Regions from separate parts of the Homo sapiens genome. Here region 2 is linked to region 1. The links come from fine-mapping of genetic effects on plasma protein levels. A gene starts in region 1. The other region holds a variant in brackets. All regions are shown on one strand. Distances are between the middles of the regions. Region 1 holds the start of ADAM23 (ADAM metallopeptidase domain 23). Region 2 overlaps ADAM23 (ADAM metallopeptidase domain 23).

Evidence for each region. PIP is the chance, under the fine-mapping model, that this variant and not a neighbour inherited with it causes the effect. Protein levels are from antibody-based Olink assays in UK Biobank. Linkage for the fine-mapping came from a reference panel and not from the study's own genotypes, which makes the PIPs less certain.
Region 2: its variant is fine-mapped to the plasma level of the ADAM23 protein (UK Biobank, PIP above 0.99).

What each region holds. Positions count from the first base shown.
Region 1 is chr2:206,439,091-206,447,561 of GRCh38, forward strand. ADAM23 (ADAM metallopeptidase domain 23) reads left to right here and starts at 4,442. Exons shown (of 26, transcript NM_003812.4): 1 at 4,442-4,990; 2 at 6,217-6,434. The coding sequence starts at 4,777. RefSeq lists a silencer at 4,887-5,016.
Region 2 is chr2:206,471,424-206,479,894 of GRCh38, forward strand. All of the region lies in intron 2 of ADAM23 (ADAM metallopeptidase domain 23), which reads left to right. Among named protein-coding and RNA genes, the nearest start is that of ADAM23, 32 kb to the left of the region's middle. The variant T/C (reference allele first, on the strand shown) is at 3,992.

The DNA of each region.
Region 1 (8,471 bases):
AGGATTGAGTTTGAGGAACACAGGCAGATCCCAGATGGTGACAGGCTCTGGGAAGGACTAGAGTGCATGTATTACTCCATTCTCTGACCACTCATGGCTGTAGCATCCATTCAGCATCCCCTACTCACAAGAAAGTATAGCTTGGAAAAACAAAAGAAATGTCTAGAATCTTTTTGACATCTGTATTTTTTTTTTTGGTGAATGATTTCTGACTTTTCTCCCATTATCATCATCTGAGAATTGGCTTCAAAAGGAGAAATACTTCTTTCCTAAGGGATCCCTTCAAATGATGAACATCTTTTGAGAATTTAGTGACTACTTACTGATTAAACAACTATCTAAATTACAATGGAGAGCAATCTTTTCTAGAATTAGAGCCCTCTATATTGTGGCACACGCTTCCTTCGCTTTTTCTGCTTATATGCACAGGACATAATACAGTTGATGAAAAAAATTTAACCTTACATATATATATATTTAAGGTGTATATATATAGTATATATTATAAGGTATATATATTTAAGGTAAATATATATATATATATATATATATATAGAGAGAGAGAGAGAGAGAGAGAGAGAGAGAGAGAGATTTAAAAATGGCTAGCTGACAAACCAGGTCCTGTAGGCTGCATGGTTTTCACATTCTTAGAGGTTTGTAAAGAAAAAAAAATGCAGCAGAGACCATATGGCCCACAAAACCCAAAATGTTTATTATCTGGCCTTGTACAGAAAATGTTTGCTGACTCCTGAACCACGTGGCAAGTACCAATAACGAAGCACACTCGCTTTTTACTTTCATGAAGAAATGCATTGTCTTTTCTCCTTTGAAGTATCCACTTCCGCTGGTAAAATCAGTCTTCACAGCTATTCTAAAAGGAGGCTGAGAAACCTTCTCTAGCTGGCTCTGTAACACAGGCTGTCCCAGCGAGCTCCTGGGTATAAGCTGCTCTTGAGCCAGAGCTGCTGTTTGAGGCTTGTTCATGCTCTTGCTTTCACTCCCTAGATCTCTCTTAGTATCAGCACCATCCACTAATTTGCTGCACACCTTCTTTGACCTTGACTTTTTGGGCAAATGCTTATTCCATTCCAATTGCTCTTGTAAGTCTGCTTTGCTACCTTCCCCTGCTTTTTTACTTATTTTACCCTCTGGACCTCTCTTCTGTCATCCCCTTCTTCTACTTTCTCCCCTAGCATCTCAGCCCTCTTGAGGCCAAGGCCTGCTACATCTAATATTTCTATTTCTGTCCTTTGCTTGCTCCTGTCCAGACCCAGTCTTCTCACTGGTTGCAAAGTGGGTCCAGTTCTACCACTGGAAACAGATTTTGGCAAATAGAGACCTTCTGATCTCCTCCCTCACCAGACCAATGGACCATTTTTGTGAACAGTATGACGACCCTTCCTGGGTATTGCTCACATGCACCCCTCATGGTGCTTACCTAGGGTCCATATTGCCTGGTGTAATTTCCTTCCCATGGACCTTCTGGCCACCTGCCTTCACCTACGACTGCAGCATTTCTCCATGTCTGCCACTGTGACTAGATCACTCCAGTGATCCTCTGATGGCCTTAGGATCCAACACACATTGGTAACCAGGGCCATTATAGCACTCAAGCTTCTGGTATATTTCTTTATTCCAGTCCATCTTGCTGAATCCCTCTGTTTCCTACCTGTGAGTGCCCCTCTATGAATGCTGATTTGATTCCAGGTACTATACTAGGCTGTGGAGTCAGAGATGACCAAGATACAGCCTTGCTCTCAGTATTTTTTGATGGAAGAATGATGATATGCACATACACGAATACAGAGCAAAGCAGTAGGTGGCAAGTGATTAAGCAAGTCACTAAATCTTATGAAAGCACAGAGGGGAATATTTAGAAGTAAACTCTATAAAAATAAAAATTCTGAACTACCTAATAAGAATATTACTAACTCTACCAAGTTGACCAATTAAATTATTTAATCAGTTAATATTTGATTCTGTTTTTAACCTTCCCTTAAATATATGGCTTAAAGACTAAACTTCCAGTAAATTTTTTCTAAGTAATGTACTCTTTCTCTGACTCATTATTTCATTTATTGATATCTTATTTTGACTCTAGCAATGTCTGTAACCATTAAAGTTCTGTAAATAAATGCAGTCTTTTGACTATAGTACATAAGACAACATCCCTCTTTGTAAATACCCCAACCCCTTATTAGAAACTATATTGAGGCCAGGTGCGGTGGATCACGCCTGTAATCCCAGCACTTTGGGAAGCTGAGGTGGGTGGATCACCTGAGGTCAGGAGTTTGAGAACAGCCTGGCCAACATGGTGAAACCCCGTCTCTACTAAAACTACAAAAATTAGCCGGGTGTAGTGGCACGTGCCTGTAATCCCAGCTAATCCCAGCTACTTGGGAGGCTGAGGCAGGAGAATCGCTTGAACCTGGGAGGCAGAGGTTGCAGTGAGCTGAGATCGCACTACTGCATTCCAGCCTGGGTGACACAGCAAGACACCATCTCAAAAAAAAAAAAAAAAAAAGAAAAAAAGAAACTATATTGAATCCTCATTCCATACCCCAAGTGCATGAAATGATGTGTTGTAACTGGTGGGTGGGTTTGGTCAGTCCAGGTTGGCTGATAGGTTTATTTATCAGAACAGACTTTAAGAGGTTGTCACTGAATTGCAAGAGATGCCTTTCAAGTAACTTGCATCTGGGTGCTTTGCACCTTTCATTTCCCTCTCCCTTCTCATTGCTTGTACATCTCCTTTCTGGCTTGCTTTCTCTCAGGCCCTTTTTCAGGATGCATATTGTGTCAAATATAAATTTGGAAAACCTAGCCAGAGAATACTTGACTTGAGGGAGACAACCCTAAGAACATTGACCTGCAGTGGGCACTCCGGTGGGGCTAGAGTGTTCACTAGCCTGCCCCAAGTGTGACTTCTGCTTGTGTGTATCACCCATTTCTTTATTCATTTAGTACATATTTTCCAAGCGATTTCTCTGTGCCTCAGACACTGTGTGAGGTCCTAGGGACACAATGGTGTGCAGAAGGGAAAACTGTTGTTGCCCTCACATGGGGGAGGTAGCAACAATTACAAATTTACAGGAATAAATATGTGATAATAATATCCTAGCTCAACATAGAAAGGAAGTTATCTCAGTATTTACCTAACAGTTTTGTAATGTGTGTGTGCGCGCGCGTATATGTCTTCTTCTTTTCTCTTTGTTAAGTGTGAGTGGAGAAGATGATGGCTAACACTGAGTTCTGTCATGGCCATGGCACTTTTATACCCACATTCTTTCTTTTAATCATGGAATTCTCCACCCCAGCCCTCACCCCGTGGATGTCGGAGTAAGACAACATTGTTATCACTCAGATTGTCATTGGGAGGGTGAATAAATGAATGCTTGCATTATGAGAGTTTGGGGGCAGAAATATGCCACAGACTCTTATCTGAAGCCATCAGATTTAGTGGCTGCGAACCCACCGAAGTCAGGGATTTACATTTTTTACAGCAACGAGAGAAAACTTCCCCTTTCCTCTGCAGAAGTCAGGACTGGATCTCAAAAATAGAAATGTGTCCTCCTAAATGTGTGCCCATCCCCGTGGTTGACAAACAACGGATTTCCCAAGATAGCTGCCACACACTTGGTTTCTAATCTCTGTATTGCTTCCCCGCCAGAATGTCGAAGTCCTTCCCGAATATGCCCAGTCATACTTTCTGAACTTTTGAGCAAACACCGTCCGGCTTCTTGTGCTTTCCTCAAAGACCCCAGGCACCGGCAGGGAGGACACAGGCCGGGGCAGAGCGCCCCTGCGCGGGGGATTCCTGCCACTCCGCGCCAGCCTGCGGCGCAAACGCTCTTCTCAGCCGCAGTCCCACCCGCTGCTGGCAATCTGAATGAGGAGCCGCGCTATTTTTACCTCCCCGGCTGCAATCCTTTATATTTACATGCAGGAAGCAAATATATAAGGGATTAAGAAGGAGATGCGTGGCCTTAGTTTATCCAGAGCAGGAAGAGGTTGGAATAGGAGAGGGTATGTGAAGTCTGGGGTGGTGGAAAAGGCAGGTGGACTTCGGCTGGTTGTTTTCTCCCGATCATCCCTGTCTCTGGCCTGGAAACCCCCGTACTCTCTTTCTTCTGGCTTATCCGTGACTGCCGGCTCCCCCTCCACCGCCCCCATCTTTTGAGGTACCACCCGTCACCTCCGATGCTGCTTGGGCTGCTGCATCACTCTGCTGCTTTACCCCCTTCCCCGCCCCCCAACAAAGCATGCGCAGTGCGTTCCGGGCCAGGCAACAGCAGCAGCACAGCATCCAGCAACAGCATCAGCACCCGAAGCCCCGCTCGGGCGCGCTCTCGGGGGGCGGGGCGCACGCCCGCTCCGCGCGTCCCCGCGCCGCTCGCTCCCGCGCGTCCCCGCGCCGCTCGCTCCCGCGCGCCGCCTCAGCATCCTCAGGCCCGGCGGCAGCCCCCGCAGTCGCTGAAGCGGCCGCGCCCGCCGGGGGAGGGAGTAGCCGCTGGGGAGGCTCCAAGTTGGCGGAGCGGCGAGGACCCCTGGACTCCTCTGCGTCCCGCCCCGGGAGTGGCTGCGAGGCTAGGCGAGCCGGGAAAGGGGGCGCCGCCCAGCCCCGAGCCCCGCGCCCCGTGCCCCGAGCCCGGAGCCCCCTGCCCGCCGCGGCACCATGCGCGCCGAGCCGGCGTGACCGGCTCCGCCCGCGGCCGCCCCGCAGCTAGCCCGGCGCTCTCGCCGGCCACACGGAGCGGCGCCCGGGAGCTATGAGCCATGAAGCCGCCCGGCAGCAGCTCGCGGCAGCCGCCCCTGGCGGGCTGCAGCCTTGCCGGCGCTTCCTGCGGCCCCCAACGCGGCCCCGCCGGCTCGGTGCCTGCCAGCGCCCCGGCCCGCACGCCGCCCTGCCGCCTGCTTCTCGTCCTTCTCCTGCTGCCTCCGCTCGCCGCCTCGTCCCGGCCCCGCGCCTGGGGGGCTGCTGCGCCCAGCGGTGGGTATGGCCCCGTGCCCTTTGCGTTGGCTTTCCCGCGGGGCCCTGCAGAGGAAAGCGAAGGGCGCGCGGGTCCGTGTGCTCCGGGCTTGTCCCCGGCTCGGCCTTTCCTTCCCTCCCTGCCTGTCTTTCCACCCTTCTCGTTCCCAAACCCCCATTCATCCCAGTTCACTTTTGGAAGTCCATTTCTGTTGCATTCGCGAAAAACCCATTCCAATTCTTGTTGGTTCCACTGGGAGGTGTTTAGTGGATCCTGGGTCCCTCAGCGATCTCTGTGCAACTTGCGGAGGGGCAACCAGTGGATGGGAAATACAGCGAGGGAGCAAGTTGCTACTTGCGTGGTGGAACCTTAATGTGAATGCGGGGAGGATGTAGTGATAATAGTGGTAATGGGCTGTTTCCTCAAATTTCGTATCCGGCGCATTCAGTGCGGTTGGAATTAAGGTGGGGGAGGCACACTTCGGGGACCAAAGAATTAAGGTGCTGAAGACATACTTCATGCACGACCTTTGGTTCTGATTTCTCAAAGTGCTTGTCATTATAATGAACAATTAATATAATACCATCTTCTATATATTGATGATTGGAAGTCACTGAAAGCAGAAAGCTGGCTTTGTCAGGAAAATAAAAAGAAATTGGGAAGCTGCCAGCATCTGTATCCCTACATGGCAAAGTATGTTTGCTCATCTTAAAGTTAAAAGAGAAGGGAATTGTCCATTTTGTTAAAAGAGTCGATTAATATTCGGTATCCATAAATTCAGTACTCAAGTTATCTTAGGAGCGTTCTTAGCTCTTGGATGGGATGCCACTAGGCAGAGTAGAGTTGTGCTTCTGTGGACTCAGAGAAGGGGTGGAGATCGGGGGCAGGACCCCTGAACATGTTCATTTAATGACTCTTCTTCCCTCAAGTTCATTCTACCCCCCCCCCAACACTTAGAAGTATAGATTTGAGTCTGACTAGAAATGTATATATAAGACATAAATCAAAATAAATAGTGCACAGTTGTATAAGCCTTATTGGCTATTTATTAACTTCTCCAGGCCATTTTATTGTTGAAATAACTTGCTTTACTCTAGCTCTACTTCTTAACTGCTTATAAATAGAAAACTTTGTGTTTGAAATTAAAGGAAAAATGCATTTTAGTGCTTATGTATTTATGGGGTAAATATGTGTGTGTTTGTGTATGTTTGTATTTTCTGCTCCCCCACCCCCCTACCTCCACCAGCTCCGCATTGGAATGAAACTGCAGAAAAAAATTTGGGAGTCCTGGCAGATGAAGACAATACATTGCAACAGAATAGCAGCAGTAATATCAGTTACAGCAATGCAATGCAGAAAGAAATCACACTGCCTTCAAGACTCATATATTACATCAACCAAGACTCGGAAAGCCCTTATCACGTTCTTGACACAAAGGCAAGACACCAGCAAAAACATAATAAGGTAGGCAGGAGGCTGGCTATGCAAAAGTAACTATCATGAAGAGTTTTCCTTTGATTTGATTTTCTGCCAGAATCTGAGTTCACAAATTTTACTGCAGCATTTTATTAAGAAAGCAATTAATATTATGATAGGGGAGAAACTGGAAGGAATTAACTTGGGATCTACTGGGATAAGACTGTTGTTTCTCTTCTCTGACTAAACTGGAACTAGAATTTTCTGATACCTGAAATGATATCCATGTATCTTTCAGGTACATTGGGCACTGAACAGTAGTTAAGTGAATGTGTTTATGATTCTAACTTGTTTCTGTGAGGCTTTATGTAAGGGTGCAGTATTCTGCCTTGATATAAAACTGTCTCCCATGATATAAAAACTGCTTTCAATCTGCACATGCAAGATTGCTTCAAGAAGCTATTTGGCTGCAGTGTCTCCATCAGTCTTTCCACTTAGAAATTGAGTGTTTAAACAGTCTGTTTCTTTAATTGATCAGTAGGAGGAAAAAAAAATTTTCTGTTGTATTTTCAATAGGTAAACAATTTGACATTTAAAAAGATTATGGTGACTAGACACAAATTATTTGCATAATATGAAGACCAATTTTGATTGGCATAATTCTTCAGTACCTACTCTGCATTGATTATGAGCAGTTGCTTTACTTTCAGGTTAGTTCAGAAAGTGGAACTGATATTTACCAAGGTATCAGTAGAAGACAAATGTTTAATATCCAAAGAGTTTAAGGGATCTTTTTCCCTGTGTTACTATTCTTTACTTGAATTAATATTATTTTGAACCCCGAGCAGATTTAAACAATGGATTATCGGTTCTTCTGTTGTTTATCGGGAGCAGAAAATAGAGTCTGTATGTTAAATGTTTCATTTTGATCTGTACTTGTTCAGGTGAGAACAACAGTTAGCAATTAACTGTCTAAACATCTAGAATTTAAGAAAGTATCTGCAGTTTACATCATTGTTTTTTATTAGTTTTCTAAAATATAGGTGAGTGGTAACAGTATTTATCCCCATTTTACAAATGGGGAGCTAGAAATTTAAGGCTTTTGGGTGATTTTCCTATGTTGTAAAGCAGCTAATATAAAATTCAGGTGACCTGAATGTTTAATTTTTACTATTTTTTACAAGTTAGGTCTCTGAGAAAGTGCTTTCTTCACCTTGAATATTACTGGAGAGGTGAACTTTCTTTCACATTATTTTGAAGTGGCTGCTACCCACCGTGAGATAAATGTGTCTCTGTTCTCAGCCAGCCCTTTTCTCCATAAGCTCCTATATAACTTAATGGGGTGACTAATAGGTCATGTCTAACTCATTTGTCTTATTGATAGGAGAAATGGGTGTTGTCTTTAAAGAAGAGAAATCCAAGGCCCTTTTGATAAAATGCATTGAGGCTTTTATAGCTTTCCTTATGAATGAGACCTTTTAGAGTTAAGTGGTTAGTTCTCAAACTCCAGCACCTTTGCTTAGGATGCTGGAGGAAGGAAAAACAGCTGCCTCAAAGCCTGTTTCAAAGAATGCTCAAGCCCTCCTCAGCAGAGACTTGAAATTTCAGTGGCACTTTTTAATAACTCAGATGTTTGAGGCTATGACTAATGCTTGCCTTATAGTTTAACCTTATGTGGCTGTTTTCTTTGGTGGGACGTGGTTTGACTGTAATATACCTGACTTCCGTGATAATAAGGTTTGTTAAACCTGTACCCACCGCTTACCTAGAGGAATAGTTGGGTTTCTTTTATACTGTACTTTGAAAAGAATGTTTCTACAGAAATCGTATTTGAAAGCATTTTTCTTATTAGTTTAACTCTATAAACATTTGTTGCACCTTTCTCATATGCAAGCGGTATGCTAAGTATTCAAAGATAAGAGATAAAGGTTAAAAGGATGAAAAGACATGATCTATCCTCCAGGAGGCAGGAAAATGAGATAAGCAAGATTCTAAAAGTGCTCCCGTACAGGTATAGACAGTGTTGTTGTTTGGTGGGTGCCTTGAAATTACCCTTTGTGTTCTGTGACCTCCCTTTTACTTCTG
Region 2 (8,471 bases), 32 kb after region 1:
CAGAGTAGGCAGACTAGGGAAGTAGGACTCCTTAAGGAGGGTTGCCTCACATGAGGCTTTTTTTTTCTTTTAGAATAGTATTCACATTATATAAGCAAATTTAAAAAACTGCCATGTAATGAGTCACAGACACTAAGCATGGTGCTTGGTGTCTTGCTTTCCAAAACTTATATTTTATTTCCATTCTTTTATTTAAATTATTTAGTGGGTGTTCAATAATTCTGGCTAGAAAGACAAAATATGTTCTTGCTTTATGACACAAGTGTTAGCAGAGAGAGAAGTGTTCCTTGGAGTTGTGCAGTTTGGTGATGTAGGAATTGACGAGGAAAAAGAACAAGGTGAATCACACCTCAGCTACTAGATTAATGCACCACATTAAATGTTACTATTCAGGAAGGCAGTTACCAAGAAGCTTCCATGGTAACTGTTGTCATAGTTGTATTTTTACTCATCTTTCAAAAAATATATGAAAGTGAAATAATACTGCTGTAGTGATACTTGTGCTGCTTTACCCATTTTAAATAGCAAGTGCTCCAAAGGCTTGTAATTCAGTCTTTCTCCTTAGTTGGCATTGCCAGTTTAATATCCAGCAAACATTAATCACTAACAGTAAATGTATAGAAGACGTTTCATATACATGTCCAAGGATGCTTTGTCAGTGAAAGTGTATTGTTACAGAGTCCTCCAGGGTTGCTAAATAATCACTAGGGAAAATCTTAGTTTGACCTCCCCCATACCCACCATAAGATTAAATGTAGCTTCTCTTCTTTGGCTGGCCATGAAGAATTTTAAAAAGAAATATTTAGTGTGGCTAATGTGATTGACTGGAATATGTATTTGGATTATCAGTGCCTACTTCCTCTTTCTCTTCAGCGTCCATCTTTTGCATATTTAAGAGTACTTCGGCTGGGCGAAGTGGCTCATGCCTGTAATCCCAGTACCTTGGGAGGCCGAGGTGGGTGGATCACTTGAGGTCAGGAGTTCAAGACTAGCCTGGCCAATATGGTGAAACCCTGTCTTTACTAAAAAAAAAACAAAAATTAGCTGGGTGTATTGGCGCACACCTGTAGTCCCAGCTACTTGGGAGGCTGAGGCACGAGAATTGCTTGAACCCAGGAGGCGGAGGTTGTGGTGCTGAGATCATGTCACTGTGCTCCAGCCTGGATGACAAAGCGAGACTCCATCTCAGGGGAAAAAAAAAAAAAGAGTACCTCAAACTGAGGTACATAAGAAAAGAGAGGAAGATGAATTTGGAATCTCTTTAAAATTGATTTATTTAGAAAAGAGCTCTTGTATAAGATTTGGTCAGAAGTTAAAATTGACAAATCCATAAATCCAAGCTTTCCTTTTTTCTGTACCATCAGATCGCATAATCGAATATTGGCTAGATTTCTTTTAGAGTAGAAGTTCCATCTTTTTCGGCTAGGTTGGCACAGAGAACAAAGTCACACGGTGATCTGCTTCCTTTAAGTAGGAGATGTTCATCGTGGGTTGTGAGAAGAGTGTGCTTTGTTGATGCTTTGGTCTTGTTTCTGTAATAGCCTTCAAACGGTATGACTTAAGCTTCCTAATTTAAGGCCAAAAGATAGATTGATTAACATTTTCGGGCATGTATGTTTTCGGGCATTTTTCGGGCATGTATGTTTCCCCCCTACTTGTCATTCTTGTAAAATGCTTTATTTTATGATAAACTGTCATGTTTAACTCACACCACAATCCACATTGCAGTATAACACTCCAGAATGGAAGGCATCTTGTGTTTTACTTTAAAAGCATGTTTCTTAAGCATTTATTTGTTAGCAAATACTTATTAACACTTTATAATTTCATTCTATTAAATAAATCCTAGAAGAGCTGTCTGAATTCTTTCTTTAAATGCGGAGAAAGTCTTCCTCATAAGCCATTCTCAGCTCTCTCCAGCCCCCAGCAGACTCACTCCACAAATTCAAATGCGCTTGTTGCCCTTACTCCAAATTTGGTAATTAATCATGCTTATATTGTGTGTGGTATCTTTACAAATAATATTTATGCCAGGGGTAGTGGCTCACACCTGTAATCTCAGCATTTTGGGTGGCTAAGATGGGAGGATTGCTTGAGGAGGCCAGGAGTTCAAGACCAGCTGGGGCAACACAGTGAGACCCATCTCTAAAATAATAATAATAATAATAATAATAATAACAACAACAACAACAACAATAACGATTCTTATTTAATTGACATATTATATTTTTCACTCTTTTCAGTTACTCATTTGATTTCCTTAACCATATTATAATCTTTTTGATCTAAGTGTTAATTCTCGGCCAGGCATGGTAGCTCACACCTATAATCCCAGCACTTTTTGGGAGATCAAGGCGGGTGAATTGTTGAGCCTAGGAGTTTGTGACCAGCCTGGACAGCATGGTGCGACCCCATCTCTATGAAAAAATAAATAAAAATATTAGCTGAGAGCAGTGGCATGTACCTGTGGTCCCAGCTATTTGGGAGGCTGAGGTGGGAGGATTGCTTCAGCTAGGAGGTCAAGGCTGCAGTGAGTTGTGATTGCACCACTCCACACCAACTTGGGCAACAGAGTGAGACCCTGTCTCAAAAAAAAAAAAACAAAAAAAAAAAACCAGAAAAACAAAACTAACTCTCCTATACTAATCTGCTCTAGTATCTTACATAAGGTAGGTATTTAATACAAATTGTTGCTGGTTAGCCCATAATACTATCAATTGGAACATGGTAGAAGAAAACATGATAATATTTTTCTCCTTCAAACTACCTGTTTAAATGCATCATGGCAAGAATGTTCAGCAAATTACCCTAATTTGCAGAACCGCCTTCATGTAGCATTTGCAGCTGTTTCACTTCTGTGGAAAATGATTCATATTATTTTGAAGACATGACAACTTGAACAAGGTCAAAGCATAATACATAATGGTAATTAGCAATAAAAATACAAAATTTGCAAATTTTGCTGAGTGTAAATGCACATTGGAATTTGCTAGATGGTGGCTAACTATCCTGGGAGGGAACTTTAGGGTGGGGTTGATTGATACCCTTCCAAAATGTTACTGTATTCTTTTTTCTCTTTTTCCTACTTTACTGTCTCCTTCCTAAATGACTGAGCTTTTTCACTGTGGCTGAGCTACATTGGTCACATTATTATTATTGCTATTTTCTTTGAGAATGGGTCTCATTCTGTCACCCAGACTGAGTGCAGTGGCATGATCTTGGCTAACTGCAGCCTCAAACACCTGGGCTCAGGTGATTCTCCTGCCCCAGCCTCCTGAGTAGCTGGGACTAGAGGCATGCACCACCATGCCTGGCTAATTTTTGTATTTTTCATAGAGGCAGGGTTTCACCATGTTGCCCAGCCTGGTCTTGAACTCCTGGCTTCAAGCGATCCTCCTGCCTTAGCCTCTCAAAGTGTTGGGATTACAGGCATGAGCCACTGCGCCTGGCCGTCAGTTGCATTATTGTATTATTTAATCCTCGCACACATCATGTTGTTAAGCTATTATTATTTGTATTTTATTGACCGGAAAACATTGAGGCTTGCAGATGTAAGGACTTCTGGCATAAGTATGGCACTTTTTTGTCATTTAACTAAAACTAACACCTCATGTTTCTTCCTTTGATCTATGACCTTGGACAATAACATTAGTTAATCTCTCTCTGCCCTTTAAAAAAGTTTCTTTTCTATAAAAGGGTAATAAAAATGTCTGCTGTACCAATTGCATGGGGTGCTGTGTTCTAGATAGACATGACAGTACTTTGAGATGATTAAAATGTAAGAAATGTGAGGCATTATTATTTTTATCATAACACAAACCTGTGCAATCACCAGTGTATCAATTTAGAATGAGGGATTAGAACAAAATTACAATTAAAAATGGTCTGTTGATATTTTCTTTTGGACTTCAAAACTTTTAAGATATATTTACATATTTGGATTTTTGCATTATACAGAAAAAGATTCACAAGCTGGACTTTCATGTTTCTC[T/C]AGCTACAGGATAGGTCCAAACTAGTCCTCTTTAGAAAAACCTCTGTGATTGAAAAGAAGTGACTTCTTTTCCTCAAACTTATTTCAATTTAAAGTTGACATTTTATTCTCATTGATATTTAATTATCTGGGATGCTGGATTCTGTGCCTACTGTTTTCGTATGAAAAGAAAAACATACCAAACAGCCACGCTGATGAAAGTCTTCCTGGTGAAGTGGACTCTTGTTCTCAGCAGCTCAACCCATGATGACAAAGGCAGGGTCCCTCTAGCATCAAATTAGCGAATTTTCCTCCTCCCATCTTGTTAGTTGGTGAATTTTCAAATCTGCCTTCTCTGAAACATTATAAAATGTCCTGAATCTCAAAAAAAGGTGATGTTTTATATTCTATGACCTTTCTCCACCATATTTGAAGATAATGGAGTGGAAACTCTTGAAGGGTCTATTGAAAAACTGTAAAGGTAAGGAAAAGAACCGTATGCAACAAGATAAAGGAAATAAAATACTTCCTGAAAAGGTTATGGTTACACACACACACTCACACACCTGTCACATGTATACAGTGTAGCTGCTGTATTCAGTGTTTTAACAGACATAGAATAAACATTGTTTTTTCTATGTTAGAATAAACAGAGAAGACAGGCATCTGCTTACTGACTTTTGCGGTCTCTAATGCCCTCTTTCCTGAAGCCGAGACCTGTAGCCCTCTTCTTTACGAAGTTGAATGTGAATCATTCCACTGGTGTTTGCTTAGGCCTGCTTGATACCCTAAAGGGCTTCTTACCTCTGTTTGTAAAACATTTTCTTGTCTATTGATATTCCACTTTGGGCATGTTTCGTTCATTACTTAAATGAATATCTCCCTAAATAAACTGAATATATCTTAAGATCAGGAAACCACTTCCAAATTCTGTTATGTTTCTCACACCACCTATAGTTTAGAGCAGGGGTCCCCAACTTCCAGGTCACATTGATATCAGGCTGTGGCCGGTTAGGAACTGGGCCACACAGTAGGAGGTGAGTGGTGGGTGAGTGAGCATTACTGCCTGAGTTCCACCTCCTGTCAGATCAGCAGTGGCATTAGAGTCTCATAGGAGCATGACCCCTATTGTGAACTGCACGTGCGATGGATCTAGGTTGCATACTCCTTATGAGAATCTAATGCCTGATGATCTGAAGTGGAACAGTTTCATCCTGAAACCATCCCCCACTCCACCCCATCCGTGGAAAAATTATCTTCCGTGAAACTGGACCCTGGTGCCAAAAAGGTTGGGGACCACTGGTTTAGAGCATACTAAGGTGAAATATATGTCTCAGAAGATGTGATGATCCATAGTGTAGGCACTCAGTTACCCAAGTTGCTCAATTTCTACTAAATTTTACAATTTAGTAGAAATTCAGCCTTATGATATTTTTTGAATTCTGGGAAAATGTTATTTCCCATTTTCAGTTCCAGTTATGGGTACGCTCTACAGAACTCACAAATTCTTGCCAAGTAGTGAAGAATACTGTTTGAACACCTATTATGTGTGAAACATAGTTGCATGAAAACATGTATATCCTGCAAATGGCTGCCTTTTATTTTTATGATTAGATATAGAGTTATTTTTCTTCTTGTTTTTATGTCTATATTAGCTATTCTAGAATATAAGTCCCAAGAAAACACAATAGTATCTATTGAGCCTATTTAATGTACCCTACACAGAGTTGAGCATGTATGATTGCTTAATGTCATAACATTGCTTGATGATAAGGTGAGAAACAAGTCTTAGCCGAAGAACCCAATAGCTTTCTTAAAGTTATTTAATATACCATTAGATGCCATCCACTAGAAAGAAAAAATAAAAACAAAAGCACATTGCTAAGACGTGTAAACTGTTCTCCAGTGAAGGAGGTTTGTGTATATAATTGAGTTTAATTGTTTTTCTTTTCAGAGCTCCTGTAATTTCCCTGTGCCAGATTCTGAGTTAAAAGAAAAATACTAAAGTGGTTAGGCAGCAGCTGTTCTCAGTCCTTCAGGGTGGTAATTCTGAGCCCAGGGACATGCTCATTCTTGTTGTGAAATGATGTTCTTTGGCTATAAAACCCTGCATTCTTCCCCAGTGCTATTATAGTGAATGTCCTTATAAAAGCAAGGCTGTTTAACAGATATCCCGAAAGAGAAAATAACTGATTATGACCTAATATGTGGTTCATGAACTCTTCTCTGAAGCATTCCTAGGATCTGATTTTGTATTACTGAACACATTTCTAAACCTCACTGTATAGTTCCTTTGTAAAAGAAGAACAATACTGTAGGTAGTCTTTGTATTTTTAATGGATTTCAGTGATGCTGGTCAGTTCATTATCTCTAAAATCTGTTAAATCAACTAAAAATGATATGGCTGTATATTGTAAGACTTTGTACTCATCCCAGCCATTCTTCTAACTTTTCTACCATTTGGAAGAAGCAAGCCAATATTCTGTTAAAAAAAAAAAAAAAAAATATATATATATATATATATATATAAAACAACAATGTGGTTTATAAAATAATGACTCACTTTACATGATTTGAAAACATTTAAAATGGGCATATATAAAAACTGTGTAATATTTTGTTAAAGAAAAAGTGACAAATTGAAATGGACTGCATAGCATCCAGAAGTTAAACACTATTTTAATTGTGTCTAAGACAGGGCAGAAATAAAATGATAGGGAAAAGTAGCACTTGTCAGGTATTTATTTTGGTATAGAGAAGAATCTGTACTGTCTAAGCACTTGCAGAATGTATAGCAATGGAAAGAGAAACAGAATGTAAGCAAAATAACATACATCAATATATTTAAATGACTTAAAATGGATATAAATGTATTAGATGAAACTAATTCCATTTGATACATTGACAAAGAAGATGAATATGGTGAGGAAATCTTAAATCATTTTATAGAAAATGTGCTTCCTCTTAGAATTAAAATATTAAAACATTCTTACTGATAAAGGTAATAAAATCAGGTTTTTTTTTTCCTATGGATAAACAGATATCTTGTTGCTGGCATGATAAATTGCTTCAGTTCTGGAGAGTAATCTGTTAAGATGTTTGAATCATAATGATATGATGATGATGATGATGATGATGATGATGATGATGGCGTGTGCCAGAAATGGTGCTGAGTGAGTTTGAGGGAGTGGCCATTTAGGAGAAGGCTCATTGTCTTGGCCACATGTTCTTGTTTGCGATCATAAATGTCACTGATCATGTCACGTGAAGCCTGCCAGTCTCCATCCCACCTTTTCAGATTCATTGTTTGACATTTCATCTGAAAACCATTTTCCTACAGGCCATATTCATTTTTTAAAAAATTTAAAAAGCTTATTTTTCTCACATTCATTTTGACTCGATTTTTATAAATGTTTTCCTCCATGCCTTGAGTGTCTTTTCTTTCTCTGACACGTGGATTCTTATTCATCTTTTGAGTTGTTGTTCAAATAGCACCTTGTCAGTGGATCCTTTCTGCACCTCTCTGTGCCTGGATGGGGTTCAGCCATGGTCCCTGTGGCCCATTAGACAAGCTGAGGCTGACAGTTGTACCTGCCCCTCTGGAGACCATCACTTCTTAGAGGGCGGAAGCTGTGTCCCAGCTATCTTTATATGCAAAGCAGGACTTAATATGTTTGTGTGGAATGATTGAATGCAAAAGCAAAAGGAAAACCCAGTATGATTTACTAGCTCTTTGATTAAATTCTATTAAACTGAAGCTAGTCACATTGACTTGGTATAAACCTATTCTAGCAATTATCAAATTGTGTAACTCCTACAATTCTGTAAAATGAAGGTACTACATTTACCACCAGATTACCTTATTTTGCAAGAGTGTTGTCAGTGTTTGTACTTGTCACATCACTTATTTGCTATAAAATAAGCCTTTTACTGAGTCTCTGTCAAGTTCTTCTTAGTGTTTATAAAGATGTTCAAGGAGGTATATTTATCAGCTCTTTTAGACCAGGGTGCCACTAATGAACTCATCTCTACTGTATAATATTCTTAAGAGAAACTATACTTAAGGATTTATCTTATTCTTAGGAAGTAAATTTTACATACTTAAAGCTTTTTTGATCTAGAGCTGAAAAATCTCTCCTTGTACAAATTATTCATCAATATAAATATCTTTATGCAAAAATTAATGCTTCAAGGTACAGAATGAATTTGAAGACTAGTGGATATTTGTATTGAATAGAGGTTCTGTTGTGGATAACAGAGACCACACTTGACAGAAGTTTCTCTCTCTCTCTCTCTTTCTCTCTCTCTCTCACTCATAGTTGTATGGATACAGGAAGCCCACAAGTATGGTGACCCTGTTCTAGAAGGTTGTTTGGAATTTGACTTGGTGTCCTATGGCATTAAGGATTTAGGAGCCTTGTTTCTCATTGTTCTGTATTTAAAATTTAATATTTGTTAATTTCCTTTTTACATTTTATGGATTATTATTGAGTGACTATCT